Regions from separate parts of the Homo sapiens genome. Here regions 1 and 2 are each linked to region 3. Evidence: fine-mapped expression QTL. A gene starts in region 3. Each other region holds a variant in brackets. All regions are shown on one strand. Distances are between the middles of the regions.

Region 1 (10,989 bases), 36 kb after region 3:
ACCATGCTGTTTTGGTAACTATAGCCTTGTAGTATAATCTGAAGTCTAGTAATGTGATACCTCCAGATTTGTTCTTTTTGCTTAGTATTGCTTTGGCTATTCTGGCTCTTTTTTGGTTCCATATGAATTTTAGAACTTTTTTTCTAATTCTGTGAAAAATAATGTTGATATTTTGATGGGAATTGCACTGGATCTGTAATGCAAGATTACTTTGGGCAGTATGGTCATTTTCACAACGTTGATTCTTCCAATCCATGAGCATAGAATGCATTTCCATTTGTTTGTATAACCTATTACTTCTTTCAGCTGTGTTTTATAGTTCTCCTTGTAGAGATCTTTCACCTCCTTGGTTAAGTACATTCCTAAGTATTTTATTTTTTTGTAGCTGTTGTAAAAGGGTATCAGTTCTTTTTTTGATTCTCAGCTTGGTCGTTGTTAGCGTATAGCAGTGCTACTGATATGTGTACACTGATTTTGTAAACTGAGACTTCACTGAATTCGTTTATCAAATCTTAGAGTCTTTGGAGGAGTCTTTAGGATTTTCTAGGTATACAATTATATAATCTTCAAACAGCAATAGTTTGACTTCTTCTTTTCCAATTTGGACGCCCTTTATTTCTTTCTCCTGTCTAATTGCTCTAGCTAGGACTTCCAGAACTATGTTGAATGAGAGTGGTGAAAGTGAAGGTGGCCATCTTGTCTTGTTCCGGTTCTCAAGGGGAATGCTTTCAACTTTTTTCCATTCAGTATGATGTTGGCTGTGGGTTTGTCACATATGGCTTTTATTATTGAGGTAGGTCCCTTCTATGCCTAGTTTGTTAGGAGTTTTAATTATGAAGGATGCTGGATTTTATTAAATGCTTTTTCTGAATCTATTGAGATGATCATGTGTTTTTTGTTTTCAATTCTGTTTATGTGATGTATCACATTTATTGACTTGTGTGTGTTAAACCATCCCTGCCTCCCTGGGACAAAATCCACTTGAATTATCTTTTTGATGTGCTATTGGGGTCGGTTAGCTAGTATTTTGTTGAGGATTTTTGCATCTATGTTCAACATCAGTGAAATTGGTCTGTAGTTTTTTTTATTTGTTGTGTTCTTTCCTGATTTGGATATCAGGGCGATACTGGCTGCATAGAATGATTTAGAGAGGATTCCCTCTTTCTCAATCTTTCGGAATTGTTTCAGTAGGATTGTACCAATTCTTCATTGAACATCTGGTGGAATTCAGCTGTGAATCCATCTAGTCCTGGGCTTTTTTTGTTGTTCTTGGCAATTTTGAAATTACTGATTCAATCTTGCTGCTTGTTATTCACCTGTTCAGGGTTTCTGTTTCTTCCTGATTTAATACAGGAGAGTTGTACGTTTCCAGGAATTTGTCTATTTCCTCTAGGTTTTCCAGTTTGTATGCAAAAAGGCGTTCATAGTAGCCTCAAGTGATCTTTTGTATCTCTGTGGTTCTGTGGGTTGTAATGTCTCCAATTTCATTTCTAATTGAGCTTATTTAGATCTTCTCTTCTTTACTTGTTTAATCTTTTCTTCTTTTCTTGGCTAATCTAGTCTATTTTATTTTTTCAAAGAACCAGCTTTTTGTTTCATTGATCTTTTTATATTTTTTGTTTGAATTTCAGTTAGTTCTGCTCTGATGTTCATTATTTCTTTTCTTCTATCTTTGGACTTCGTTTTTTTTGTTTCTCCAGTTCCTTGCAGTGTGACATTGTCAATTTGTGCTCTTTCAGACTTTTTGATGCAGGCGTTTAGCACTATAAACTTTCCTAGCACTGCTTTTGCTGTATCCCAGAGGTTTTTTTAGTTTTTAGTTTTTTGAGACAGTCTCACTCTGTCAACCAGGCTGGAGTGCGGTGGCACTATCTTGGCTCACTGCAAGCTCTGCCTCCCAAGTTCAAGCAATTCTCGCACCTCAGCCTCCCAAGTAGCTGAGACTGAGACTACAGGCGCCTGTTACCACACCCAGCTAATTTTTGTATTTTTAGTAAAGATGGGGTTTCACCATGTTGGCCAGCCTGGTCTCAAACTCCTGGCCTCAAGTGATCCACCTGTTTGGCCTCCCAAAGTGCTAGAATTACAGGCATGAGCCACCGAACCCCACCTATCCCAGAGGTTTTGATAACTTGTGTCATTATGATTCAATTCAAAAATTTTTTAAATTTCCATCTTGATTTCACTGTTTACCCCAGATATCATTCAGGAATGGATTATTTTATTTCCATGTATCTGTATAGTTTTGAGGATTCCCTTTGAAATTGATTTTTAGTTTTATTCTGCTATGGCCTGAGAAGATACTTCATAGGATTTCAATTTTTAAAAATTAATTGAGACTTGTTTTGTGACCTATCATATGGCCTATCTTAGAGACTGTTCTATGTACCAATGAGAAGAACATACATTCTACAGTTCTTGGGTAGAATGTTCTGTAAATAGCTGTTATGTTCATTTGTTTTAGCATGTCATTTAAGTCCATTTTTTCTCTGTTGGCCTTCTGTCTCAAAGACTTGTCTAGTGCTGTCAGTGGTATATTAAAGTATCCCACCATTACTGTGTTGCTGTCTATCTCATTTCTTAGGTCTAGTAGTAATTGTTTTATGAATCTGCAAGCTCCAGTGTTAGATGCATGTAAATTTAGGATTGTAATATCTTCTTGTTGGATTGATCCTTTTATCATTATATTGACCATCTTTGTCTTGTCTTACTGTTGTTGCTTTGAAGTTTGTTTCGTCTGATATAAGAATAGCTACTCCTGCTTGCTTTTGGTGTCCATTTGCATGGAATATCTTTTTCCACCCTTTTCCCTTGAGTTTATTTGAATCCTTTCATGTTAGGTGAGTCTCTTGAAGACAGCAGATATTTGGATTGTGATTTTTGTTATCCATTCTGTCATTCTGTATTTTTTAAGTGGAGCGTTTAGGCCATTTACATTCAACATTAATATTGAGATGTGAAGTACTCTTCTCTTCATCATGTTAATTGTTATGTATATAGCTTTTCTTTTTTCATTCTGTTATTGCTTTATAGACTTCATGAGTTTTAAGCTTTCAAGAGATTCTATTTTGGTGCGTATTTGGCTTTTGTTTCAATGTTTAAAACTCCTTTTAGCCCACCTTTCTTTCTTTTCTTTCCTTCCTTCCTTCCTTACTTTTTTTTTTTTTTTTTTTGATAGAGTCTGGCTCTGTTGCCCAGGCTGGAGTGCAATGTTGCAATCTTGGCTCACTGCAAACTCTGTCTCCTGGGTTCAAGAGATTCTCATGCCTCAGCCTCCCAAGTAGCTGAGATTACAAGCATGCACAATCACACCTGGCTAATTTTTGTATTTTTTAGTAAAGACAGGGTTTTGCCATGTGGCCAGGCTGGTAGCATTTCTTGTAGTTTGGTTTGCTAGTGACAAATTCCCTCAGCATTTGTTTATCTGAAAATGACTTTTATTTCTCCTTCAATTACAAAACCTAGCTTTACAGGATACAGAATTCTTGGCTGACAGTTTTTTTCTGTTTAAGGAGATTGAAGATAAGACCCCAATACCTTCTGGCTTGTAAGGTTTCTGCTGAGAAGTCTGCTGTTATTCAGATAGGTTTTCCTTTATAGCTTACCTGATGCTTTTGTCTTACTGCTCTTAGAATTATTTCCTTCATGTTGAGTTTAGATAGCCTGATGACTATATGCCTTGGTGAAGATCTTTTTGCAATTAATTTCCCAGGAGTTCTTTGAGCTTCTTGGATTTGGATATCTAGATCTCTAGCCACGCCAGAAAGGTTTTCCTCAATTATTCCCTGAAATAAGTTTTCCAGACTTGTTATTTTCTCTTCTTCCTCTGGAACACCAGTTATTCTTAGGTTTGGCTGTTTAACATAATCCCATATTTCTTGAAGACTTTGTTCATTTCTTTTTATTCTTTTTTCTTTATTTTTGTCTGATTGGGTTAGTTTAAAAACCTTGTCTTCAAGCTCTGAAATTCTTTCTTCTACTTGTTCTAGTCTATTGTTAAAGCTTTCTGCTGCATTTTGTATTCCCTAAGTGTGTCTTTCATTTCTAGAAATTCTTATTGTTTTTTCTTGATAATATCTATATCTCTAGAAAATTTTTCATTCATATCCTGAAATGCTTTTTAAATTTATAATAGTTTTCATCTTTCTCTGAAATCTCCTTGAGTAGCTTAATAATTGACCTTCTGAATTCCTTATCTGGTATTTTAAAGAGTTCGTCCTACTTTGGATCCATTGCTGGAGAGCTAGTGTTATCTTTTGAGGGTGTTATAGAACCCTGTTTTTTCATATTACCAGAGTTCCTTTTCTGGTTCCTCCTCATTTGGGTAGATTATTTCTTCTAATTATCCTTGAATTGATGTTTGATTTGACTGTGTTTCTTTTTGTGTTTGTTTTTTAATTTCTTTTTTCCACTTAAGGATGTGACTTTAATGCTTATCATATTATGGCCTAATTTGGTTTTTGGTGCTTTCAGGGGTGAAGACTCTGTAATAGTTCCTTGGTTATAGAGAGTTTTTTTATGTGGCTTTCTTAGATGCTGGTTGTAGTAGCAATGTGCTTGGTATATTAGCAAGATCACTGTCTCCTATGGGGCTGTAATGATAAGAGGTCTCTTAAAGCTTATCTCATTCCCCTGTGGCATGCCCTTTTTTATTTACGCATTTTCGTCCAGTTTTTTTTTTCTTTTTTTTTTTTGAGGCTGAATCTCACTCTGTTGCCCAGGCTGGAGTGCAGTGTCATGATCTCACTGCAATCTCCGCCTCCTGGGTTCAAGTGATTCTTGTGCCTCAGCCTCCCAAGTAGCTGGGATTACAGGTGCCTGCCACCACACCCAACTAATTTTTGTATTTTTAGTAGAGACAGGGTTTCACCATATTGGCCGGGCTGGTCTCGAACCCCTGACCTCAAGTGATCCACCCGCCTCAGCCTCCCAAAGTTTTGGGATTACAGGCATGAGCCACTGCACCCGGCCTTTTCTCCAGTGTTTTATTTACTAGTTTGATGGTTCCAGCTTCAGGCCAGTAGGGGAGGTGTCCCTGGGTAGGAATCAGCTGTGGCTAAAGCAGGTGGGTAAATGCAATACCCAGTGATGGGCAGAGGTCTCAGCCTTGACAGAGGTGGCTGGAGGAGTGAGTTGCAATGAGGTCTTACCTGGGGTAAGGGTTGGAGCCACCTCAGCTCCCCTGCCAGGTTAGCAGGAAAGTTATCCCTCTCAAACACACTCCTGTTTCAGTGCTCCAGCTTTTCATCTCCAGACAGCCACCTCTTTTCATCTGCAGGAATTTTGATGTTCCAAATAGAGAAAAATTGTGAACGTCTCTCATACAAGCTTGAACCTAGAGGGTGCCCCTCCTATGGGGATGCAGTCACCCTGATGTCTTCCAGAAAGACTGTCTATAGTTGCACTCACACCAAGCTCCAATGGGAGAAGCTCCAACTGTGCCTGCAGTGGTAGACAATGGGTGGGGGGGTTGTCTGTCTGTTGGGTTAGAGCTGAAGACTTTTCCTGCTGAGCCCAGCACTGCAACTGTGCCTCTGCTGAAAGAAACTTCCCACTAGCAGAAAGATCTGGTTCTTAAGTCCTGCTGTCTGGATTATTTTCTCCCACAGGGTGTTCTCTTGATGTGGTGCACTCCCTGTTCCCCTAGGATCAGGGGGATCCCACTCCTAAGGGAACAGGGTCTCTGGGTCTAGCTGTCCAGTGAAGGTACCACACCCCAGGCTGGTGCTAGGGAATATCTGCAAGGGATCCAGTGATGTGACCTCTCTTCAAGTCTCCCAACAGTGGGTAGCAGCACCAGTTCTAATGGGCGTGGCAGGGTAATAGACTCTGTGAGAGTCCTTGGTTATTGATAGCCTTAGTGTGTTGGCTTTCTCGAACACTGGTTTTAGTAGTAATGAACTGGTCATGTGGACAAACTCAGGACCTCCTGGTTAGCCAGAATGGTGCAGGCAGTGGTGATAGCTGAGATTACACAGCCATCTTCTTCCTAGGTGCGTTGTTATTCTACCAGGAGATGCTGTAATGGACTGTGTTGGTTGGCCTCCAGCCAAGAGGTGATGCTTACAAAAGGGAACCAGCTGCAATAGTAGCAATAGGACTTTTGCTTGCTTTATGTTGTCCAGAGGGGTTACTCTGGTTTCTCAGGCAATGAGTGGGGCTATATAGCCCCCAAGAGTTTCTGTCCTTTGTGTTAAACTACCAGGGCAGGTGACGGGGCAAAGCAGGGTGAGGGTTGGTTCAGGTGGGCTTGCGCTCTGAGTCTCCCTGTGCAGGGCAAGCAGCAGCCCCTGTGGAAGCCAGGGGATGGGAGTGGTTCTCAGGCCACTGGGTTGATGTTCCAAAAGGCAGTGTTGCTGGCTTTGCCACACAGAAGGGTTTGTGCAGAGTGAGGAGAAGCAGGTGGCTGTGAGCCCCACACAGATCCCATGCACTTGGCAAGACAGATGCACTCCCACAGTGTTCCACTGGCAGCAGCAAGCTAAGTTCCAGTTAGCCTGCACTCAGAACTTGCAACTGTCCCGAGTCATATACGTTCCCTGCAGAGA[T/C]AGCAATCACGGCTTTCAGGCCAAGCCCCTCCCTGTCCACTGCAAAGCCAGGCACCCAGTTCCTGCACTGGCAGCTCCTGCACTCATGGCTGCAGCCCACTTTTCACTCTCCTCCACCCTGGCCCTGGCCAAGGGAGTTCATCCGCACCTAAGGTTATATCATGAAACCCAGTTGGAGGCTTCTTTCAACCTGCGACCACTGCCTGAACTTTTTGGCTGTCCTCCACAGGGTTCCCCGTGAGGAACAGTAAGAAATGGCTTCCCTCTCTCCATGCTGAAATCTGGGAGTGTGTGCAAGAATCTTCCTGCCACTGCTCCCACTTTTATATTCCACATCCCTCCCCAAGTCAGTTCCTGTGCTGCATAGGGTTAGGGCTTTCTCCCATGGTCTGGACTTTCAGGGTCCACAGTGGGGGTGTGTATTCCAGGAGTAATGTAGGGTGAGTCCCCCTTCTCACACTCTGGGAACTCACAGCCCTTTGCCTGATTCACAGTGTAACCTGCAGCCTCCTGCTTCCTTCAAAGGGTCTGTAGATTCCTTTGGTTTTCCTGTTCAGTTTCTGCATTGCTCCTTGAAAAAAGTTCAGTGTGAATCTCTACAACTATTTTGTTTTTCCAAGTGGGAGAAGTATGCTAGCAATGCCTCTAATCTGCCATTTTGGAAAAACACAAACAAACTTCTGTCTTCTTTTGAGAAGTGTCTGTTCATGTCTTTTGCCCACTTTTTAATGGGGTTGTTTTTTGCTTGTTCAATTGTTTAAGTTACTTATAGATTCTGGATATTAGATATTTGTCAGATGCGTAGTTTGTGAATATTTTCTCTTTTTTTGTAGGTTGCCTGTTTACTTTGTTGACGGGTTTTTTTGCTGTGCAGAAGCTCTTTAGTTTAATTAGGTCCCACTTGTCAATTTTTGTTTTTGTTGCAGTTGCTTTTGAGGACTTAGTCATAAATTCTTTCCCAAGGCCAGTGTTCAGAATGGTGTTTCCTAGGTTTTCTTCTAGGATTCTTAGAGTTTGAGTTCTTATGTTTAAATCTTTAAGGCATCTTGGGTTGATTTTTGTATATGGTGAAAGGTAGGGGCCCAGTTTTATTTTTCTGCATATGGCTAGCCAGCTATCCCAGCATCATTTATTGAATAGGGAACTCCTTCCCCACCACTTGTTTTTGTCTACTTTGTTGAAGATCAGATGGATGTAGGTGTGCAGCTTTATTTCTGAGTTTGCTATTCTGTTCCATTGATCTATGTGTCTGTTTTTGTATCAGTACCAAGCTGTTTTGGTTACTGTAGCCTTATATTTTTTTAAATTTTTTTATTTCTATGGGTTATTAGGAAACAGGAGGTGTTTGGTTACATGAGTAAGTACTTTAGTGGTGATTTGTGAGATTTTGGTGTGCCCATCACCCGAGCAGTATACACTGCACTCAATTTGTAGTCTTTTATCCCTCACCCCCTTCCCACTCTTTCCCCCTGAGTCCCCAAAATCCATTGTGTTATTCTTATGCCTTTGCATCCTCATAGCTTAGCTTCCACTTATGAGTGAGAACATACGATGTTTGGTTTTCCATTCCTGAGTTACTTCACTTAGAATAAGTCTCCAATCTCATCCAAGTTGTGTTGATGCCATTAATTCATTACTTTTTATGACTGAGTAGTATTCTATCATATATATATGGAATTTCTGAATCAAATGGTAGTTCTACTTTTAGTTCTTTAAAGAATCTCTATGCTGTTTTCCATAGCAGTTGTACTAGTTTACATTCCCACCAGCAGTGTAGAAGTGTTCTCTGTTCACCACATCCATGCCAACATGTATTTTTTTTTTATTTTTTGATTATGGCCATTCTTGTAGGAGTAAGGTGGTATCTCATTGTGGTTTTGATTTGCATTTCCCTGATCATTAGTGATGTTGAGCACTTTTTCATATGTTTGTTGGCCATTTGTATATCTTCTTTTGAGAATTGTCTATTCATGTCCTTAGCCCACTTTTTGATGGGTTATTTGTTTTTTCTTGCTAATTTGTTTTAGTTTGTTGTAGATTCTGGATATTAGTCCTTTGTCAGATGTATAGATTGTGAAGATTTTCTCCCACTCTGTGGGTTGTCTGTTTGCTCTGATGACTGTTCTTTTTGCCATGCAAAAGCTCTTTAGTTTAATTAAGTCCCAGCCATTTATCTTTGTTTTTATTACATTTGCTTTTGTGTTCTTGGTAATGAAATCCTTGCCTAAGCCAATGTCTAGAAGGGTTTTTCTGATGTTATCTTCTAGAATTTTTATATTTTCAGGTCTTAGATTTAAGTCCTTGATCCATCTTGAGTTTATTTTTGTGTAAGATGAGAGATGAGGATCCAGTTTCATTCTCCTACATGTGGCTAGCCAATTATCCCAGCACCATTTGTTGAATAAGATGTGCTTTCCCCACTTTATATTTGTGTTTGCTTAGTCAAAGATCAGTTGGCTGTAAGTATTTGGGTTTATTTCTGAGTTCACTGTTCTGTTCCATTGGTCTATGTGCCTATATTTATACCAGTACCATGGTGTTTTGGTGACTATGGCCATATAATATAGTTTGAAATCAGGTAATGTGATGCCTCCAGATTTGTTAGGTTTTTTGCTTTTTGATTTTTTGTTTGCTTGTTTTGCTTTGTTTTGTTTTGCTTAGTCTTGCTTTGGCTATGTGGGTTCTTTTTTGGTTCCATATGGATTTAAGGAGTTTTTTTTCTAGTTCTGTGAAAAACGATGGTGGTATTTTGATGGGAATTGCATTAAATTTGTAGATTGCTTTTGGCAGTATGATCTTTTTCACAATATTGATTCTACCCATCAGTGAGCATGGGATGTGTTTCCATTTGTTTGTGTCATCTATGATTTCTTTAGCAGTGTTTTATAGTTTTCCTTGTACAGGTCTTACAACTCCTTGGTTAGGTATAGTCCAAACATTTTATTTTTCTTTTGCAGCTATTGTAAAAGGGGTTGAGTTCTTGATTTGATTTTCACCTTAGTCGCTGTCAGTGTATAGCAGAGCTACTGATTTGTGCACATTAATTTTGTATCTGGAAACTTTACTGAATTCTTTTATCAGTTCTAGGAGCTTTTTGGAGGAATCTTTAGGGTTTTGTAGGTATACAATTATATCATCAGCAAACAGCAATAGTTTGACTTCCTCTTTACTGATTTGGGTGCCCTTTATTTCTCTCTCTTGTCTGATTGCTCTGGCTAGGACTTCCAGTACTATGTTGAAGAGGAGTGGTGAGAGTGGGCATCCTTGTCATGTTCCAGTCCTCAGTGGGAATGCTTCCAACTTTTCCCCATTCAGTATGATTTTGGCTGTGGGTTTGTCATAGATGGCTTTTATTACATTGAGGTATGGCCCTTGTATGCTAGTTTTGCTGAGAGTTTTAATCATAAAGCATGCTGGATTTTGTCAAATGCTTTTTCCGCATCTATTGAAATGATCATGTGATTTTTATTTTTAATTCTTTTTATGTTGTGTATCACATTTATTGACTTGAGTATGTTAAGCCTATATCCCTGGTATGAAACCCACTTGATTATGGTGGATTATCTTTTTGATATGTTGTTGGATTCAGTTAGCCAGTATTTTGTTAAGGATTTTTGCATCTATGTTCATCAAGGATATTGGTCTGTAGTTTTCTTTTTTGGTTATGTCTTTTCCTGTTTTTAGTATTAGGGTGATACTGGCTTCATACAATGATTTAGGGAGGATTCCCTCTTTATCTTGTGGAATAGTGTTAATAGGATTGGTACCAATCCTTCTTTGAATGTCTGGTAGAGTTCTGCTGTGAATCCATCTAGTCCTGGACTTTTTTGTGTAGGTAATTTTTTAATTATCATTCCAATCTCACTGCTTGTTATTGGTCTGTTCGGGGTATCTAATTCTTCCTGATTTAAGCTAGGAGGGTTGTATCTTTCCAGGAATTTATCTGTCTCCTCTAGGTTTTCTAGTTTATGCACGTAAAGGTGTTCACAGTAGCCTTGAATGATCTCTTGTATTTCTGTGGTGTCAGTTGTAATATCTCCCTTTTCATTTCTAATTAAGCTTATTTGGATTTTCTCTCTTCTTGGTTAATCTTGCTAATGATCTATCAATTTTATTTATCTTTTCAAAGAACCAGCTTTTTGTTTCATTTATCTTTTGTATTTTTTGTTTGTTTGTTTGTTTGATTTCATTCAGTTCTGCTCTGATCTTGGTTATTTCCTTTCTTCTGCTGGGTTTGTGTTTGGTTTGTTCTTGTTTCTCTAGTTCCTTGAGGTGTGACCTTATATTGTCTGTTTTTGCTCTTTCAGACTTTTTTATATAAGTGTTTAGGGCTTTTAGCTTTCCTCTTTGCACTGCCTTTGCTGTATCCCAGAGGTTTTGATAGGTTTTATGTCACTGTTGTCATTCAGTTTGAAGAATTTTTTTAAATTTCCATCTTGAT
Region 2 (10,989 bases), 340 kb before region 3:
TGCCTCCCCCATTAGGATTGAAGTCCCAGCTGCTGGCTACTGCCTTGAGGGAGGTATCAGCCTTTTACTTCTGGATCTTGGCCTCTCCTTGTTCTACCCCTTCCCAACAACAACTGAACATACCAAGTGCTTGCTATGGCCCAAGCACTGTTGCAGGTGAAGCTGCAGCATGAACAAGATAAGCAACATCTCTGCTCCCCAGGCCCTCTGCAGACATGACACCTGCGGGAGACAGACACTGAGCAAGCCAGTGGATACAAGAACTGGGAAAATGAGAAGTGCTATGAGGGCAAGAAGTTGCAACTGTTTTCTTAGCTACCTGGAGGGAGGGAAAATCATTTTCTGGAAGTTTTTTTCTATGAGTTTTGTCTTAGCTTTGGCTGTCATAACAAAGTACCATAGACAGTGGCTTAAACAACAGAAATGTATTTTCTCATACAGTTCTGGAGGCTGGAAGTTGAAGATTGGGATGCCAGCATGGTTGGGTTCTTGCGAGGGTTCTCTTCCTGGCTTTCAGATGGCCGCGTTTTCACTGTGCCATCATCTGGCAGGGAGAGAGAGAACACATGAACTCTGATGGCTCTTACCCAGACGCTAATGACATCTTGAGGCCTCTACCTCATGACCTTAACCCAGTTACCTCCCAAAGGCCCCATCTTCAAATGCCATCAACAATGGGGATTAGGGCTTCAACATCTGAATTGGGGGTGGGGACACAACATTCAGTCCACCATAAATTTGTCATAGGAACCTGAAGATGAGGAGCCAAGCACAGTTTTTAGAATTTGCATAAGTTGTAGATTACTGTAATTATTGTTTTTGCCTCTATGGCTGAGAAACTTTGGGTCAAAACGAGCCTTTTAGAATGTATGAATTAGTTATCTAGGTAGCCCTGAAGTTGGCTCTAGATTTATTAGAAGCTATTTTAACCATTGCATTCACTCAAGAAACCACCGCCTATCTGTGAAGCACAGTCTATCTGTAAAGCTCCCTCACAATAAATTCATCTCAGAAATATGTAGTCTCTAGTGTGTGCCCCCAACTGCTGAATGGGTAGGCCTAGCTCAGCACAGTCATTCGGGCATTAAATATGGCAGAAATGTGGTCCACCTCATGACGTGCAAACAACAGTTGGCTTGTTTAATCTGCACTGCTTTGCCAAGGACGTGTGATTTGTGAGGTGCTGGAGGGGAACCAATTTTAAGAGTCAGCCTGAGTGTCAGCCTCATCTGTCTGCTCTGACTTTTGTCTGCTCTCTAGCAGGCACTCCATCTCCCTTTTCAATTTTCTACCCTGGAAGTGCTCCCCTCCAGGGAGGAAGATGAGTCAGATATGCAGCTGTGATGCTAAATGATTCAATAGAGTCAAAAACAACACAGAACACAGGAAAACGCATTGTTTAATCTGACTCAATTACAAGTGGGCAAGGTAGGTGATGGAGGGCAAGTCAAAAGCATAACGATGTCAAGCTTTGGTAGAACCTAGCAAACCGGAAGACTTCAGGGTGTTTGGAAAGGAATGTGTAGGGGAAAGTTGTCTAAAATGCTGTAACAGCTTTCTGTGTTGCTCTTCTCACTGCCTTAGAATTTAGAGTCAAAATAATAATGATCTTTTCTTCTTTTAGATAGCCTTCCTGGCTTCAACCCACAATCAGTCTAGATTCTAGACAGTGGTTCTCAACCCTATCAGAGTCAATACTCCAGTCTTTAACAACTAATTTGAAGTGTTCCTTTTATAACAAAAACCTTAATGTATTCTTTATTGTCCTACTATAACAATGTTGTTGGTCCCTACCCCCACCGCATACCCCTTGGTTGTTACCATTTTGGTGCACTCTGAGCCCACTCCAGCTGCTAGCCCCTCCACTTCCTATCCGAAGGTATACATGTTGCATGCTGGAAGAGTCAGAAATAATGCTCTCTGGGAAGAGCTCTTAACCTGTTGGCTCTAACAGGGGCCAAGAGAGTGAGGGTATTTATATACCAAGGTTGCCATTGGTGTATAAAAACCCTCATGTTGCCATTGGTGTGTAAATACTCTCACTCCCTTGGCCCCTGTTCCCCCGTGGGATTAAGCTCTAGTTGCCTACAGTGGTTACTTCTTGATGACAACCTATTACTGGCTTTTTCACCTTCCCTGCCTCAATACCCTACTCCCCATTGTATATTAAACCAGTGCAAAAGTGTCTTGTGTTTATATGTAAAGAAAAGTTGGCGTCTGGATTCAGATAACTACAGGTTTTATTGTTTTTCAGTGACATGATAGTTCAGTGGGACATTTGAAAGCTATACAGGGCATGAGGCGATTCTTCACTGTGTAGGGCAACTTGTGGAAAACTTTGCTTAAAGAGCAGTAGGCATATTTTCTTTGCCCGTGTTTTCTTAATCCCTTCCTCCCCTACCCTGTTGGCCGAAATGTAGGCGTGATGACTGGAGCTGCAGCTGCCATCTTGGAGCAGGTAGACAGAACCATGCTACACCCTAGGGTGACAGAGCAGTAGCCGGAAGGAACCTATTCCCTGAGGACTTCGTGGAGCAAGGCTGCCCTATTAGCCCTGGATTCTCTCTGTCTCTGAACTTTCACACGAACAAGATATAAACTACTCTGCTAAGCCAAAATTATTCTGGGTTTCTACTTCTTGAAACTAAATCTACCTAAAGCAATACCAAAAATAAACATTAAAATAAGCATTTCAAACTAGTTTTCAAAGACTGGTATTAAATCTGATAGGGTTAAGAAAACTGTCTAGGCCAGGTGCGATGGCTCACACCTATTATCCCAGTGCTTAGAGAAGCCAAGGTGGGAAGATTGCCCAGAAGTTGGAGACCAGCCTGGGCAACATAGTGAGACCCCATCTCTACAAGAAGTTAAAAATTAGCCGAGTGTGGTGGCACATGCCTATGGTCCCAGATACTCAAGAGGCTGAGGTAGCAGGATGATTTGAACCTAAGAGGTCGAGGGTGCATGATCATGAGCCATGATCATGCCACCACACTTCAGCCTAAGCAACAGAGTGAGACCCTGTCTCAAAAAAAAAAAAAAAAAAAAAAAAAGGGAAAAAGAAAACTGTCCAGACTCTATACAAATTGTAGGATTGAGCCAGGAAAGCACTCTAGAAACAAAACAAAACAACAGATCGTTACAGTGTTGTCTCTAAATTCCAAGAGTGTGCCTCAGTAATAACCCATAATTCTTGCAACTGTGACCAGACCAGCTAGTTCTTCTATGAAGAACTATAAGGTGCAATGAGAGGAAATGGGGCACCTGAGTGGAGCTGGTCCACGCAAGACTTTTCTGAGCTCTAATGATGGGTAAAGTCAACTGGGTAAAGAGGTGGAAGATAAATAAATATAGTATTTGTCATTTACTTCTAAAAAGTGGGTAGGTGTGGTTTCTAGGAAATCAATTCTTCTGAAAGGCTAAAAAATGTGTTTAAAACATGGAGTTAGGGGGAGCATTTTATGCAATAGTCGTTTTCTCTTTCACGCCACTGGTGATGGTTAAGAGTAGGCACCACAGGGGAAGACTGTGTTTCATTTGATGTGTATCCCAGTGTGTAGCACAGGGCCTGGCTTGCTGAGGAAATGCTATTGAAAATATATTCCAGTGTGCTGAGAGCTGGTGGCCAGTGGGACTGAGTGAGCTGTGTGCCGTGTATTGACCCGCTTCCTAGTCCTGAATTCCTTTCAGAAGCTCCGGCAGGGAGGATGATACAGTCAGACAAAGGAGCAGATCCACCAGACAAGAAGGACATGAAGCTTTCTACAGCCACCAATCCACAGAATGGTATGTGTCACCAGGACTCCTTTTCTAGACCAGAAAGTAATATCACCTCTGACATGTGATCAAATGAATAGGCAGAAATCCTGACAGACTTACTGTGATCCCTATGAGGATCTTGTACATTTTTGGTTGCACTACTGCCCTACCAGTGATAACTTTAAGAACAAATTTCAAGCCAGGAAGGAAATAAATGGACATGATGGATTCAAAACCTTTTTTTCCCTTACCTGACAATGTTTTATGTAAAACTTAGAACTTCTTAAGTTGTTCACATTCAGAATATCACTACAACACTGTGAAAATACTGTCAAAAAATAGAATATTCACTAAAATCTGTTTAGAGACCCTTTAATCAGGAGAATACTGAGCTTTGCATTAAATCTATTGGGAGTTAGAATTTTTCAATATCACTCTCAATAAGAATTTTTTGAGAGGATGAAATGACTCTTATGTTTGAGTTAGAGAAAGAGGATACAGAACACAAGTAGATAATTTTGGGATAAACGACAGGCTGGTAAGATGGGGGAGGGGAAAGCAATCATTTTCCTTTCATGACATCTTACATCTGCACATCACGATCTATTATTTTACTCAGTGTTAAGAACAACACTATGACAAAGCTAGCACCTTCTCATCTTGGGCAAAGAAACTGGGTTTCGGATAGCTATGTGACTTTGTGACGTTCACAAAGTAAGAGGTGGAACAGGGCTTGAAGTCAGATCTTTTGGCCTGAGATCCAGTGTCATTTCCACTCCTGGTGAGACCCCATGGCATGCCCCAGCTATCTGAGTTGCCTTTCACATTTACACCCGCACCTGCCACCCCATCTCTGCTCTCTTCCTTTCCTAGGCCTCTCCCAGATCCTGAGGCTTGTGCTGCAAGAGCTGAGTCTGTTCTACGGCAGAGATGTGAATGGAGTGTGTCTCTTGTACGATCTCCTCCACTCGCCGTGGCTTCAGGCTCTGCTAAAGGTGAGTGCTTCTTTGCTCGGAAGCCTTTGCTTGCTGAAGGGGTTGTGGGGAGTGTGTAGAAAATGACAGCTTCAGTCCATTCAGGCTGGATAGTGGAATAGTTTATAAACAACAGAAATTGATATCTCACAGTTCTGTAGGCCAGGAAGTCCAAAATCCAGTCGGCAGCAGATTCAGTGTCTTTTGAGGGCTCCCTCTCTGGTTCCTAAATGGTAACTTCTTGCTATGTCCTCACATAATGGAAGGGGCTAGCCAG[C/T]TCTCTTGGGGTCTCTTGTATAAGGGCATTAATTCCATATTCATGAGGGCAGAGCCCTGATGACCTATCGGCTCCCAAAGACCTTACCTATTTTTTTTTTTTTTTTTTGAGACAGAGTCTCACTCTGTTGCCCAGGCTGGAATGCGCTGGCCTGATCTCAACTCACTGCAACCTCCGCCTCCCAGCTTCAAGCGATTCTCCTGCCTCAGCCTCCTGAGTAGCTGGGATTACAGGCACCCACCACCACACTTGGCTCATTTTTGTAGTTTTAATAGAGATGGGGTTTCACCATGTTGGCCAGGCTGGTCTCAAACTCCTGACCTCAGGTGATCCGTCCGGCTCAGCTTCCCAAAGTGCTGGGATTACAGGCATGAGCCACCACACCCAGCTAGCCTTACCTTTTAATATCATCACATATGCATTTTGGAAGTACACATTCAGATCATAGCAACTACTTACCCAATGGTGTCATTTATCAACTGGTAGGAAATTTCAACTTGGAAAAAGTTCTTAGAAGGCAACTCTCAGAGAAGAGCTACACAAACTTCTTCGCTTAGGAAGGAATTAACTTAGGTGGAGGAGAATATGGTAGTCCCTTCCTTTTCTCCCCACAGCTCTTTTTCTTCCAGAGGCCCCCTGGAATCACAAAACAGCCACCACGATGGTCATTGGCAACACTTTATCAGCTGGCTACAACCGTTTGTCCTTGCAGCAACCCTGGATAAATAAAAGTGCTTTAAAAAGTTATTCCTATTTGTTTGTTAAAGTTAGAAAGTAAAATATCTACAGTTCTGTTTAGGTACCCTGAAGTTTCTTATTCTAAAGTTTCTTCTGGCCCAGTGTGATGGTTCATGCCTGTAATCCCAACATTTTGGGAGGCCGAGGCTGGTGGATCACCTGAGGTCAGGAGGTTGAGACCAGCCTGGCCAACATGGCAAAACCCTGTCTCTACTAAAAATACAAAAAATTAGCCATATGCAGTGGCACGCACCTGTAATCTCAGCTACTCTGGAGGCTGAGGCACGAGAATTGCTTAAACCTGGGAGGCAGAGGTTGTAGTGAGCCAAGATTGAGCCACTGCACTCCAGCCTGTGTGACAGAGAGAGACTCCATCTCAAAATAAATAAATAAAATAGAATAAATAAAGTTTATTCTTTTTTAATTTGGCTAAAATTCCATGCACTATACAATAGCGTCTAATAGATAGTAGAAAAATAGCATCTACTATCTAGTAGATGCCACTACTATAATTTTGTTGTTCTGAACAAGTGTTATTATTAAGAGAGATCCTTTTGAAGTTATTTTTTGGGATGTGGGTATTTCCTTCACTTAAGTGTGAAATGTGGTCTGTCTTATAGTGCATGTTAATATTATACAATAAAAGTGGCAACATCTTTGGCATGAATGAAGTACTCCTCATAGCACCTGTTATAAAACACCTGATTTCTATCAGGCATTTTCCCACAGGATCAGCTAAGATAGGAGTTTTAATTTCATGATGGGCATTGCCTTTGCTCACCACTGCTAGGCCCTTGGTGAGTTATCCAATCAGCCTTCATCACTTCCAGGTAAACCTGAATGCGGGCCCTGGGATAGAGCAGGGAAGCAGCATCATCACTAATCTGGATAGAAAAGACTGGGGGCTCAGCCGGCCCCTTGGGCCTTATTTCTTCGTCTGTAAGAGAAACTCAATTCCTAAAATAAGATCAAGGGGTGCATTGCAGAGCTAGGCAGGCTTTGGTGTCCTCAGCCCAAACCTAGATCTTGGTATGGAAAAAAATTCCCAAGGGTATGTGGAGATGAAGTTGGAATTTTAAAAAATGAACTTGTACTAGAGAATTAGGAGAGGAATGGGAAACAGCCCCAAAGCACAAAGCAGAGTACAGAGAAGCGTTTGTGGCATGCCCACCACTTATTCAGAACCTTCAGTGGCCCTGAGCCACACAGCTCACATGCTGCACAGGCGCCCAACACAGGGGTCCTCACAGGTGTCTGGTCCTAAAGGGCCCCTCCTTTAAGACGCTCCTTTATGCATCATCTACAAATCCCCATTGGTTTCAGTCCCAGACACCCTACCCTCACTCTGTTTAACAAGATTAAAAGTTTGAATTTCTTTTTATTACTGAAATGCTTGGAGAAGATCAATTTCCCAATGGCAGCCAATAATTAAGCTTTTGAAGCATCGGGGCCACCAAACTCAAGTTCATTTCTCTTTGGCAACTAGAGACACAACTTACTAAACACCAACCACACCGTGCTGTGCAGCCATTGGTGCAGTTGCCTGGGGTGTTTCTTCTCTTTGAGAGTCTTAAATCCAAAATGGCAATAGTCATATTATCAATATCAATTCTCCCTCCCTTGTCCTTCTGCAGATTTATGACTGCCTCCAGGAATTTAAAGAAAAGAAACTAGTTCCTGCCACACCACATGCACAGGTGTTATCCTATGAGGTAAGGAGATTTTATTCCACAGGATAGTAGAGCTCTGATGTGGTGCCATTTTCCCCACATTGCTAGTTCAAATGAATTAAAGGTTCTAAGGAAAAGTTTTATTGATGACTATGCATCTAATAAATGTTTCTAATTGAACTTTAATATAAGGAAGAACATTGGCTGGGTATCTCCCCAAATTAAAACACTCCCCACCACCACCCACGTCATTTTTAGCGTGTGTTCATTTCTTTCTTTTTTCCTAAGTCTCGTACTCCATTTGCCCTTCATAAACAGGGTAATGTTATAGTAATAATTCTCGGATTTATATCTCTAGCCTGGAGATTTCCCTAAATTCCAGTCTCAAATATCCAACCGCCTCCTCTCCATCTCACTTGGATGTCTAACGGACTCCTCCAAGTTCACATGTTCCAAACTGAGCTCCCGATCTTCCCCACCTGCCGATCACCCCCACCCACTCTTCTGGAAGCCTTTTCTATCTCAGAAACGATACCTGTGTTCTTGCAGTGCTCAGGCCAGAATCTTAGGGGTCATTTCGACTCTCTTTTTCTGATACCTCACACCCAATCAGATAGCAAATCCTCTCAGCTCTACTTTCAAAATATATCCAGGATCTCACCAAAATATATCCAGGATCTCACCACCCCATACCATCATCATCATCTCTTACATAGATAGTTGCAAAATTGCCTCCTATCTGGTCTCCTGTGTCCACTCTTGCTCCTCTACAGTCTACTCTCAACACGGCAACCAAAAATACCCTCTTTGAAAGCAAGTCAAATCATGTCACTTCCTCACTAACACTCAAACCCTTCAAATGACTTCCCATCTCAGAGTAAACACCAAAGCTCTTTTTTTGTTTTGCTTTTTTGTTTTTGATACAGAGTCCTGGTCTTTCACCCAGACTACAGTGCAGTGGCATGATCTCTGCTCACTGCAACCTCTGCCTCCTGGGTTCAAGCAATTCTCGTGCCTCAGCCTCCTGAGTTGCTAGGACAACAGGAACCCACTACACCTGGCTAATTTCTGTATTTTGGGTAGAGACGGGGTTTCACCATTTTGGCCAGGCTGGTCTCAAACTCCTGACACTAAGCTATCTGCCCACCTTGGCCTCCCAAAGTGCTGGGATTACAGGTGTGAGCCACCACACCTGGCCTAAACACCAAAGTTCTTACATAGCTGAACACAATCAAGCTGCTGTTACCTCTTTGACTTCACACTCAATGCTTTCTCCATTCACTCTGTTCCAGCCACATTGACCCCTTGTTATTGTTTAAATTCATCAGGCTGGGTGCAGTAGCTCATGGCTATAATCCCAGCACTTTGGGAGCCTGAGGCAGGCTGATCACTTGAGCCCAGGAGTTCAAGACCAGCCTGGCCAACATAGCGAAACCCCATCTCCACTAAAAATACAACAACAACAAAAATTAGCTGGGCGTTGTGGTGCATGCCTGTAATCCCAGCTACTTGGGAGGCACGAAAATTGCTTGAACCCAGGAAGTAGAGGTTGCAGTGAGCCGAGATCACACCACTGCACTCCAACCTGGGTGACAGAGTGAGACTATCTCAAAAAACAAACAAACAAACCCAAAAAACAAATCATCAGGCATGCTTCTGCCTGGGGCCCTTTGCACTCGCCATTCCTTATGTCAGCAATGCTCTTGCCCAGATATATACCTGATCTGTCCCTCATCTCCTTCCAGTCTCCACTCAAATGCCACCTTCTCAGTGAGGCTTTTCCTGGTCACCTATCTAAAATTGTATTCCCTCCTAGCACTTCCTAGCCAGCTTCCCTGGTTTATTTTTCTTCTTAACACTTGTCACCATCAAACAAAACTATTTTACTTACACATTTCATTTGTTGTCTGTGTCTCCTCCCTAGAATGTAAACTCCATGAGAATGGAGATTTTTGTCAGCCACTGCTGTTTTTGCATCACCTAAAACAGTTCCTAGCACACAGTAGTGTTCAATAAATATTTGTCGAATGAATGAATAAATATAATCCATTTTATTATTTATTGCCCATCCCATATTAAAAGAAACAGCAAAAAAGAAAGAAAAAACTTCTGCTCTCAATTCCAGTAATCAACAATTCAAATTGTTCTCAGTTGTCCACAGGAAAAGCACATATATAATATTTTATTCAGTTGAAATCCCAGTGAATGGAGGTAAACCTTTGTAAACTGCTTGTTTTCATTTGACTGTAGGTAATGGGGCTGACTAAAGTCTTGAAAGGTCTTATGTCCTCTGAAAGCAGGTCTACGCCTAAACCACAGCAGAGAGAGCAGAATTTTTTTCCGCTTAGCACTTTTTATTGTAACAAGCATTAAAATTGCTAATCAACTGATACTCTAAAAGAGAAATTATGATTTCCATTTTCTATTTGAAGAATGGAGCATCCCATGGGATTAAGCTCTTTGAGTTCCCCAGGTACGTTCCTAGAGAAACTCATACAGCTTCATAAGCCTGCAAAGCATTGACATCAGCCAACAGCTATTATATTTTAGAGGCACTAGAGGAAAAGTGCCTTGGTTCATATGCTGTTACCAAATTGGTACATCCTCCATGCCTATGTGCCAGGATTGGGCATTGGGTTTAGATCCATCTCAACTCTTGAATTCTATTTGCTATATTAAAGTAGCAATTTTAATGAATAAAGAAGGATGGTAGGCTTTAATGGATGGCTTTATAGATGAAAAAGAAGGCTCCAGTAATAGCTTTTTAAAGGTCAATATCATGTTAGTATGTATGTTATCCAGCCTGGGTGAGGTTAAGTAGGTGATAAAGATTTTTTAAAATTTTTATAATGTATCCTTTTCCATGAACCAGGTAGTGGAGTTATTACGTGAAACCCCTACTTCCCCTGAGATCCAAGAGCTGAGACAAATGCTCCAGGCTCCACACTTCAAGGCAAGTGCCTGCTAAAATAGAAAAGATGTCCCCATCTGGCACATAGACAAAGTTGGGAAGGAGAAATATATGTGATGGAAAATGTTCTCTCTGAATAGATGTTCTATTACTGTACACGGTTACTGACCAACAGATTGTACTTAAATATGTGGGACTCAGATGTGACTAGCTCAGTGTTGTCAATCATGCAGTCAAGCCTGCTGTGTTTATGAGGAGGCATCCAGAACTTTCCATGGTGCTTTGTTTCCCCTACAAAGCTATTGCCCATCCAAAAATCTTGGGTAGCAAACAGGGAATGTTCTAGTTATAGAGGAATACCTCCATGCTTCCTTTCCAAAGTGGGACTATTTTGAGTTTTAGATAATGTGTGTGTATTTGGAATATACAGTATAATGATGATTATCCCTGTGAGAGGGTTTATGAAGAACATTTGATTGCAGAACAGAAACCTATCTCTTAGTACTTACAGATTTGAGACCAATTTATCAATAAATTAGAACTTTAAGACAATGTCTGTATTTGGAGTGCTGAAATTTATCAGTCAAAAGTTATAATTCACAACACAACCACCAGTCATCAAATATCCTCAACGGCACGCACTACTTAGAGAATTTTCTG
Region 3 (10,989 bases):
TCTGGGGTGTCCTTCACAATTCTAGTGGATTCCCATTTTCCTTTTTGGATAAAAACCCACAGAGATGATCTTTACACACTATCTTGCTATTTCCAAGGAGCCAAGGCACACTGAAAGACTCTAATCTGCCATCTTGGAAAAAAAAAAGAAACTGTTTTTTTAAAAAAACTCAGTATCCATTTAGAATTATGACCATCTTGTGAGAAATGAAGCTTGAGACTCTACTTTGATATCAAATTTAGTGCTATTCTCATCATCTTTAATTGTGTTTTCTTTCACAAATGACTACTAGTGGATGTGTTTAAGTCCAAAAAACCTTCTGATGAGGTTTAAGATTTGGGGCTTTAAGCATCCTGTTGACTTCTATTGTTAGTTTCACTATATTAAATTTGAGTTAGGCTAATAGTAAGTTTTATTTTTCTGTTTTTCATTAGTTTTTATGAGTTAAGGGCCAAAATACCACAAAATTTTCAAATGAGCAAATGTTACTGTGCAAATTCAGAAAAGATGCTGAAATACAACTGTTGGCTGGCAGGTCATGGTGCCAGCAATAGCATGAAGTGTTTTGTTCTTTAGTTTAAGAAGTTATGAAGAAAGCACCCCGAAGGTGTTATGAGATGATGAAAAATACAGAAAACCCAAATATATAAAAATCAAAGTATTGTTTCACAAAATTTGATCGTCTTGCCTTCTCAGAAAAATCACTAAGTTGTTCAAAAGCAAGATTTTCACATCACATTCAAACATTATGATAGGCCAGAAAATGCTATGGAGTATTTTAATTTCATATAATTCACTACCACTTCTATGGCTGTTTTTACCATCTCTCAAACAATCTTTAGATCTATCCAGTAATATGAAGAGTTGGTACCAGGCTTCATGTTCCATCTAGATCTACATATATATAAATGTAAGGGTACTCAGGATGCATATTGCACAATGTTCTTCAGCCACCATATGTAGCTCTTGCAAATACCATTCCTGTATGCGAATACCTGTGGAATTGCAAATTAAGGCATTAAAAGAAGCAAAAAATGGGTGCTCAGCACCACTGGAAAATATATTTCATTATGCACAAATCTTGCATTCATGCTATCTGAGAGGTTTTGACAGGTTACCTTTCCTCTTACCTTACTGCTGCTGCCCCAGTCTTTCCTGCACTCCAAAGCAGTGTCTGTGTCTGATCTCAGCAGCAGCATCACCCACAAACCTTTACAGTATTTGGGCACAGTCATCTTTTGTTTTGAAGGTAAAGGGTAAAAGATGTGGTGAAGCATTCCCTGAGACCTGAATGTGGTTAATGATGAGAGTGAATCTTTAGGGTTATGGTTCCTGCTGTTTCAGAGCTGAGCTCCAGATCAAGGGCCCGTGTGTTTTTGTTTTTGTTTTTGTTTTCTTCCTCTTCTGAGATGGAGTCTTGCTCTATCATCCAGGCTTGAATGCAGTGGCACGATCTTGGCTCACTGCAACCTCCGCCTCCTGGGTTTGTACAATTCTTCCACCTCAACCTCCCGAGTAGCTGGGACTACAAGCATGCACCACCACACCCAGCTAATTTTTTTATTTTTAGTAGAGACGGGGTTTCACCATGTTGACCAGGCTGTTCTTAAACTCCTGACCTCAGTTGATCCACCCACCTTGGCCTCTCAAAGTGCTGGAATTACAGGCATGAGCCACTGCACCCAGCCCGGGCCCACGTATTCTTGAACAAATGTAGGTTTCTGTGTGTGCCTGTCCTATGCAGAGCCCTCTAAAGCCCAGGGCTCAGAACAGTGGCCCCTCTTTCTAGGTGCAAGGGTAGCACTACAGGCTTTCACGGGATTCCTGTGGCTACCTGGTCGGGTCTATTCAGGATGATCCATGGGAGTTAGCATAGCACCACTCTAAAGTCAGATGTTGAAAGCCAAAGATCAAAGAGAGTTGAGCAAGTGAGCAAGTTGGAGATAATTACAAGCTTCTTAAGAGAACACTGTCTTTTCCACACTGGGAGTGTTCTCATAGAGCCACAAATAGCGCTCCACAGATGGAAAGCCTCCGAATGCTCCCAGCTGACCATGTTTGCCACTTCGTGAATGCTGCAGCATCACACAAGAGGATATCTATTTCCCCAAGCCCTGTGCAGACCAATTTTGATAATATTGCTGTCAGAATTAAGTTGCAGTTTCTCTCATTCATTTTTCAACTTATACTTTGTTTTACTATTGGTGGCCTCCTCCACCTCTGTTCCAAATAGTAAGACACTTTGCTTTAGGCGAAGTTACTGAGAATGCCAGCACTTCCCCAATTTCATCCAAGAGAAGAGCACTTAACACTTAGCCCCTAAACACCTTCATTTCCTTCTCCTCAGCTGTTTTGGAACTGGCGAAGCTTTACTCATGTCCAAAAAGATGAAAGGAGAATGGGGATACCCAAGTAGTAGTAATTAGTGCTGAGCCTTTGCCAAGTCGAGTGGCTGGGGTATTCCTTCAGCACTTACTTCCTCTGTATCTCTGTTTTTAGCCATGCTTCACTCAAGACCCAAATCCTGCTGCTTTTTTTTTTTAATCATAAGAAAGGATTTAAATATAAAATTTTACACATTAAACACACTCAAAGTAAATATTCAATCTCTGGATGGAGACAGATTGTCTAGATGACTAATAGAGTCTATCAATTCTTCTCTAAGTTATTTCCCTCCTTTTAATCTTTGAAAGTCTCTCTTCATCTAGCCTGTTCATGGTGCTCAGAGTTGAAGCAGCCATAGTGCAACCAAGACGCTTCCCTCCATCAACACACCGAGGCTGGCATAACAGAGAGATGGAAAGAGCCCAGTTCTCCAAGGACATTGCTGAATCTTTGCACCAACTCTGATAGCACTGCCTCCAGACTCTATTTCATGAGGTTAATAAACCTCTTTGATGTAAGCCACTTGCAATCAAGCAACAGGTCTATGCATTTTAACTACACATGGCCCACACTGAGAAATCTTGTCGTAAATACTGGTGTCCTCAGAGCTCTGTTCTAGACCCTCTTCTCTCCTTACACAATACTCTCTCTATATGTGATCTCACTCGCTCCCTTGGCTTGGAATAGTATCCACTCTGAAGACTCCTAAATCTGCTTCTAGGCCAGAATCTTCCTCTGAACTTCTAAAATATGTAAGAAACTCTAACAGACGTCACCACTTGTCTATTAGTCTCCCTGCACCTCAACATATCCAAAACTGAACTAATAATCTGCTCCCTAGAACCTGTTTATCCCTCCACACTTTCCTATCTCAATAAATGGCACCACGGTCAACTCAATTGCTCGAGCTGGAAAGCCAGGAATCATCACCTTCTCCTTTTCGCTCATCCCAGCATCCAGTCAATCACCAAGTTCTATCATGTCTTCTCTCCATCCCCACTGCTGCTCCTCAGTCAGGGCCATCGTCAGGTCCCATGACGACCACTGCCACAGACTTTTACCTGGTTTTCCTGGCCCTTCCAATTGCTTCCCTATATTGCAGTCAGAATGATCTTTCTGATATGTAGATCTAGTCAGATCTCTTCTCTGTTTAACACTGCTGCCTGACTCACTGGACTAGAAGAGTAACTCCTGCTATGAACTCCCACTGCTTCTGGCAAGTCTCAATATGAGTCATTGTGGCTGCATGGTGACTTACACCTGTAATCCCAGCACTTTGGGAGGCCGAAGCAGGAGGATCACTTGAATTCAGGAGTACAAGACCAGCCTGGACAACATAGCAAGGCCTCATGTATACTAAAAGTCAAAAAAATTAGCTGGGCGGCCGGGCGCAGTGGCTCACGCCTGTAATCCCAGCACTTTGGGAGGCCGAGGCGGGCGGATCACGAGGTCAGGAGATCGAGACCATCCCGGCTAAAACGGTGAAACCCCGTCTCTACTAAAAATACAAAAAAATTAGCCGGGCGTAGTGGCGGGCGCCTGTAGTCCCAGCTACTTGGGAGGCTGAGGCAGGAGAATGGCGTGAACCCGGGAGGCGGAGCTTGCAGTGAGCCGAGATCCCGCCACTGCACTCCAGCCTGGGTGACAGAGCGAGACTCCGTCTCAAAAAAAAAAAAAAAAAAAAAAATTAGCTGGGCATGGTGCTGTGCACCTGTGTAGTCCCATCTACTTGGGAGTCTGAGGCAGAAGGATCGCTTGAGTCCAGGAGGTCAAGGCTGCAGTGAGCTATGCATGCAGCCTGCACTGCCACTGCCACTGCACCGCAGCCTGGGTAACAGAGTGAGCTACTGTCTCAAAGGAAAAAAAAATTAATTATGCTTTTATTGAGCTTTTTTATTGTCTGTTTTCTCATTGGTCTCTAAGTTGTATTGAGTATAAGAACTGAGGTATATCCCCACACCTAGCAATAGTGCCTGGCACACAGTAGACAACAAATGTGAAGTTGAGTGAATAGATGAATTTATAACAATATTTTGTAAGCTAGGGGTTGTGACCCACCAGGATCATGAAATCAATCTAGTGGATTATAATCAGCTTTAATTTAAAGAAGAAAAAGAAATAGAAGAGAATAGCAAATAATAAGAGTATTATTTCATGAAATTTTTTTATTACAAAATTTGTAAAATGTATTTCTTATAATGAGTGGCAGTAAAACTAAAATGAAAGCCACTGGGTTGTAATAAGCAAGTACTTTTTTCTATAGTAAGAAAAAGCAGCTTTATTTAAAAAAAAAAATCGGAAAACCTTGTGACTGCAAAAGATTCCTGCCTTGGGGGATTTTTACTTTCACAGATTTCAAAGCCTTAAACTCGAGGGAAAAAAGTGTCTAGAGTTTTAGGTTTCTGTGAGTAGATCACAGAGGAATTAAAAATCCATCACAGATCCTGCCTGGTAACTATTGCCATAGACCAATGAAGCCTAAAAGTGCTGTTGAATTCTATTTCCTCTGAAGATATATCTTAAACTTTTTTGTCCCATGACTGATGACGAAAGTGGAAATCCAGTGTTAAAAGTATGAATTCTTTGCTGTTGAGGGTGGTCACTGATTTGTGTCTTGGAGAATTTAATTGGCTGTTTCTCCCAACCTTCTCTCTTGAAGAAAAGAGCCCTGAGCCAATGAGGAGCTACTGTTCTGTGTCCATAGCAACAAAATAAACAAACTTTGGCCTGCCATCTCCCAAGGGCAAACCTCACAACTCAGGCCCAAGTCACAGGAATCTGAATGGTGGGGTGACCTTCTCCTCTAGTTTAATTTCATTGCAATACTGAGAAACTTCAACTGTTTTGTCTTTAGAAGGGAAATTCATGTTTGTGCCAGGCCAGCCTTTGTAAAAGCCTTTGATTGGATTCACTAGAAGTCTGTCTTCCCGCAGTACATATACTGTGAATTTTCTCCTTCGGCATTTCAACCACTTGGAATGGCCACTAAAGTGGCTTTTGATCTAAAGTAAACTCTGATTCTGTGTTGATGGGGAACCATTTCTCTCTAACATGGTGGTTTCTTTAAGATGTTTGACTTGGGCCACATGAGAATAACAGATCTTTGGGCAGTCCAAGGTAAGCTCTTTGGAAAAGATGTTTTATATTATTTTTTCTACTGATTATTAATACTAACCAGTAACTTCTCTGAAGCCTCTGCCGGCTCACTGGTGACTATTGTTAGGGCAAGCCTCAGGTAAAATCATCAGGTAGAAGTGCAGGAAAGGGAAAAAAGGGGGAGAAAAAATCCTTACACACACTCACACACCCCTCTATAATTAGAGCTATATGATGTCAAGCCACTGTAAATGCAGATCTATCTGTGATGACATGGAAATATCAACTAGATATCCTGTTACACAAAAAGAACAAGATGCAACATTGTGTGCAAAGTATGCTCTCACTTATGCAAATAATTTAAAAAATCTATTATGCTTCTCTACAGGTTAAGTTCTATATGCAAAACATTTAAGGTTATATGCACTCACAACATTTCTGGAAGGATGCCCCAAAAATCTGTTAGAAGTAGTTCCCACTTAAGAAGCTATGAGAAGTCAAGGGCTGATTTTAGCTACTGAAATATTAAAATACTGCCATATAGGCAGGGCACGGTAGCTCACACCTGTAATCCCAGCACTTTGGGAGGCTGAGATGGGTGGATCACCTGAAGTCAGGAGTTTGAGACCAGCCTGGCCAATATGGTGAAACCCCATCGTTATAAAAATACAAAAATTAGCCAGGCATGGTGGCGGGTGCCTGTAATTCCAGCTACTGGGGAAGCTGAGGCAGGAGAATCGCTTGAACCTCGGAGGTAGAGGTTGCAGTGAGCCAAGACCACACCATTGCACTCCAGCCTAGGCAACAAGAGCAAAACTCCGTCTCAAAACAATAATAATAATAAATAAAATACTGTCATATTGATTGGTAGATGACCATTGTCCAAGCCCCTTGCATGTCCTCCTTGCCACCTTGGTTGTCCCAACTCCTCCCCTGGCACCCCCAGACCACCTCATGATTCAGCAACTAAGGGGTTAATGCCTGGCATGGAGGTGGGAGTGAGATCTCCCAGGACCCTGTTCCAACCCTGGTTGATTATTCAATAGCCTTGTCTTACTGGTTGTTAAATATTTTGAGTATCACTCCCATGGGTGTTCAAAGAAAAAGGCCTTTATTTTTATTTTATTTATTTATTTATTTTTTAGAGACAGGGTCTTGTGCTGTCACCCAGGCTGAAATGCAGTGGTGTGGTCCTAGCTCACTGCAACTTCAAACTCCTGGCCTCAAGTGATCCTCCCGCACCACCTGCCAAGTGGCTGGGACTACAGGCACACTCCACCATACTAGGCTATTTTTAAAATTTTTTGTAGATACAGAGTCTCGATATGTTTCCCAGGCTGGTCTCAAACTCCTAGCCTCAAGCGACTCTCCCACCTCAGTCTCTCAAAGTGTTGGGATTACAGACATGTGCCACCACACCTGTGAGGCCTTCTTTTTTTTTTTTCTTAAGAGCAAAAGAATATATACCAAGACATTGTTTATCATGGGAAAGAGGAAAAGGAAACAACTACACATTCATCAAAGATCATTGAAAATCTATGTAAAACTCCACTGAGTGATTGTATCACCCATACAATTTACCTCTGCTTTCTGGCTTTTGAATGCAAATGTTTAATGTTATTTATAATATGGTAATGACGATTACAACATTTTGGCAGTTTCATCTGTGAATCTCTTTTCTCTTTGTTTTTGTTTTTTGTTTTATTCATTTATTTATTGAGACAGAGTCTTGTTCTGTCATCCAGGCTGGAGTGCAGTGGTGAGATCTCGGCTCACTGCAACCTCCACCTCCCAGGTTCAAGTGATTCTCCTGCCTTAGCCTCCCGAGTAGCTGGGATTACAGGCATGTGCCACCATGCCTGGCTAATTTTTGTGTTTTTAGTAGAGACGGGGTTTCGCCCTGTTGGCTAGGCTGGTCTCGAACTCCTGGCGTCAAGTGATCCTCTCGCCTTGGCCTCCCAAAGTGCTGGAATTACAGGCATCAGCCACCATACCATCTTTTTCTCTTTGTTGAGCTAGCCCCAACCACCATGATGAGCTGATTACAACCACTAAGTTTACTAGTCAGGTAAGAAATATTCATCAAATGCCCGTTGTGGACAAGCCACTTTGCAAGGCTTAGTGGAGGTGTTGAGGCACAGAGAGCACTCCATAGTGGAGTCCTGGCCTTCAAGAAGAGAGAAGGCAGTTGCTAGAAGTGGGCCTGCCTTAGCCTCTCACTTCTTGCCCCATGGACTCCTGCTAAATCTCCCAAGTTCAGGGTTGGCTCCTTTCGTACAGGAAGCAGATACAAGGTTCTAAGCAGAAGCAGTTTCTTTTTTGCTACTGTTGTAGCCTTCTTTCAGACTCTCACCTGAATTCCAGCCCCTTGTAGCATCATCTTCCCACCTGGGCACTCGATCCCATCTGCTTCTCTGACCTCATCTCCTTGACTTGGCCCTAACAGGCCCCCAAACCCAGTGGAGTATGGACAGTTATAAATGGCGGCCCTGTCACCTGCTCTTCAGGCCTTTGCTGTTTAGCCAGTCTCCTGGACTCCTTTCTAGCCCTGGACTCCTTTCTAGCCCTGACCTCTATTGCAGAAGACTCCCTAGTCCCAGGCCTCTGGCCCAGCCAACCCCTGCACACGCTGCCTTTCTTCCAAGGCCAGGTCTCTTGCCTTTGCTCCACTGCTCACTTAGCTCTCTTTCTGCCGACTCCTCTGCTGACTGCAAGCTCCCTGAGGGCAAGGTCCAACCAGCATCTAGCACAGGACTCACAGCACGAGCCTCTAAAGATTTGTACTGTTAAAGCAGCAGTTACAAGTGAGTGAGTTTTAGTATCCTCATATGTAAAACAGATTCAACCTTAAGGTCCTCTGTAGCTCTTAAGGTCATTAGACACCATCAGTGGGTTTCTCAAGCATCAGTCGTGTTGGAGACAAAGGTTGATTTCATTTTTTCAGCAGGTTCTTAAGCAAATGTATTCCAGTGTAATATTGAAAACTAATCATAGACTTAGACATTTGAGTTAAATCTGCTATCACTTTAATGCTTCTGTTAGGCCATTGATTCTTATAACATTTTTGGCATTTGTTTTTATTACTAATGAAATATCCACTGACATGGCTGGGCACAGTGGCTCATGCCTGTAATCCCAGCACTTTGGGAGGCCGAGGCAGGAGAATCCCTTGAGACCAGGAGTGCAAGATCAGCCTGATCAACATGGCGAAACCCAGTCTCTACTAAAAATACAAAACTTAGCCAGGCATAGTGGTGGGCACTTGTAGGAGGCTGGAGGCCTACACCTACAGGAGGCTGAGGCGGGAGAATCGCTTGAACCCAGGAAGCAGACGTTGTAGTGAGCCAAGATTGTGCCACTGCACTCCAGCCTGGGTGACAGAGTGAGACTCTGAAAAGAAAAAAGAAAAGAAAAGAAGAAAAGAGAAAAGAAATATCCACTGACATCATTTAAAAATCAACTAATGTTAAAAATTCATTAAGGAAAAGTCTCAATTTCTGCCCCATCCCCTGACCTGTCAGTTCTACTTCTCAATGTGCTCCTAGAGGCAATTATTTTCAACTCTGCTATCTATTTCTTTGGAATTTTATTTACCTCATACTTCCAAGTAATTTGTCTGTGCTCCGTATGTTAATTTTTCTTTCTGGTACAGCAGATGAGGATTTGGCTCTTATACATCCCCATTCCACTCATTCTTCCCATGTAGTCACAGTTCACTTTTTGGCTAAGTCACTATTAAGTATTTACATTTGATACATATGAGTGTGTGCCATACTATGATTATGTTTACTTTCTCATTCAATATTTTTTAACCTGGAGTAATTGCACATTTTATTTTCTTAGGTTTCTATGTTTCTATTGCCAATCTCTCACCCACACTCCCAAATGCTCTGGTTCTGGTTGCTCTGTAACAAAGTTACCACAAATGTAGTGGCTCAAGCAACAATCTTACAATTCTGAAAGTCAAAGTCCAAAATGAGCCTCACTGAGCTAAAATCAAGAGGTCGGCAGAGCTGCATTCCTTCCGGAGGCTCCAGGGGGAATTCGTTTCCTTGCCTTTTCCAGCTTCTAGATGCTGCCCCGATTCCTTGGCTCCTGGACCTTTTCCTCAATCACTCCTACTTCTTCCTCCATTATCACATCTTCTCTGACTGATAATTCAGGTTAATCTTTCTATCTCAAGATCTTTCATTTAATCACAGCTGCTTTTGCCATGTAAGGTAACATAGTCACACTTTCCAGGGATTAGGACATGCGGTATAGGGAAAGGGACAGTATTCATCCTACCATGTGCTCCTACACATCTACCAGCTGCCTGTCAATATCATCAGGTAATCTACCAGTTCCAAGTCCTGCACCCTCTGGGACCTCTGATGTGTGAATTGGCTCCATCTTGTTCATACCCTGTCTTTGCAGGCACATAGGCTATAGTGAGCTATGGAGAGAGCCCTAGTTACTATGCCAAACATGTACGGACATCCCTTGTGCAATCTTGTCTCCTCTCCCATTTTCTTGCTCTTGTGGAACTAAATCTCTTTTAATGCTGTACTCTAATTTTAGTTGGATTCTGGAAAAGAAAGAAGATAAGCCAGTGTGGTCAAGCCACCATGTTTATCTGATAGTTTTCTTTCATCAAGATTCTCATAATAGGGGTTTTGTTTTTTGGGAGCCAGGGAAGGAGTTTCCACTCTGTAATTCAAGAAGGTGACCAGGAATGAGAAACGAGGAGATTCATTTGCACTGTAGCTCAAGCAGCAGAACTAATTTTCCAGGAAGTTCTGTGCAGAACTTGCTGTGGGAATTTCTCTTCCCTTCAGTGAGAACTGGTGTGGCCTGCTGGAAAGGAAGGAGCTTGGGAGTCAAAGAGATTTGTGTTTGTTTCCAGCTCTGCAACTTGCTGCCGCCGTGACTTCTCTGAGTCTCAGTAGCTTCATCTATAGTATCAGCATAACAATAATTGAGCAGTTTTACCTGGCTCACAGCAAGGACTCGGCTATGGCAAATTTTATTTTATTTTAATTATTTTGTTTTATTTTTATTTGTATCTTATTTTATTTTTTGAGACGAAGTCTCACTCTTCACCCAGGCTGGAGTGCAGTGGCACAATCTCAGCTCACTGCAACCTCTGCCTCCCAGGTTCAAGCAATCCTCCCACCTCAGCCTCCTGAGTAGCTGGGACTATAGGTGTGTGCCACCATGCCCAGCTAATTTTTGTATTTTCAGTAGAGACGGGGTTTCACCATGTTGGCCAGGCTGGTCTCAAACTCCTGACCTCAAGTGATCCATCCACCTCGGCCTCCCAAAGTGCTGGGATTACAGGCGTGAGCCACCATGCCCAGCCAGTTATGGCAAAGTTTAAATTGCTTTCAAGTCAAGTCTACTGAGTAGAAAGGGATGAGCTGTTAACCTATAGTCAAGACCCTGCACCAGATCAACAGCTTCTGGAATCTACCATTGTTCTTTGGGTCCTCCCTGGGTTCTTCCCAATTCTTCTGTATTTTTGCTTTG

What was found.
Region 1: its variant is fine-mapped to the expression of FLACC1 in whole blood (TOPMed, PIP above 0.99). The same link has a PIP of 0.9 or more in esophagus muscle, gastroesophageal junction, ileum, substantia nigra and transverse colon.
Region 2: its variant is fine-mapped to the expression of FLACC1 in substantia nigra (GTEx, PIP 0.96).

What each region holds. Positions count from the first base shown.
Region 1 is chr2:201,315,969-201,326,957 of GRCh38, reverse strand. All of the region lies in intron 9 of FLACC1 (flagellum associated containing coiled-coil domains 1), which reads left to right. Among named protein-coding and RNA genes, the nearest start is that of FLACC1, 36 kb to the left of the region's middle. RefSeq lists enhancers at 5,997-6,496, 6,497-6,998. The variant T/C (reference allele first, on the strand shown) is at 6,549.
Region 2 is chr2:201,686,673-201,697,661 of GRCh38, reverse strand. MPP4 (MAGUK p55 scaffold protein 4) reads left to right here. Exons shown (of 22, transcript NM_033066.3): 2 at 3,608-3,786; 3 at 4,633-4,754; 4 at 7,383-7,460; 5 at 10,291-10,371. The coding sequence starts at 3,708. Among named protein-coding and RNA genes, the nearest start is that of MPP4, 6.5 kb to the left of the region's middle. The variant C/T (reference allele first, on the strand shown) is at 5,011.
Region 3 is chr2:201,351,495-201,362,483 of GRCh38, reverse strand. FLACC1 (flagellum associated containing coiled-coil domains 1) reads left to right here and starts at 5,139. Exons shown (of 15, transcript NM_001127391.3): 1 at 5,139-5,502.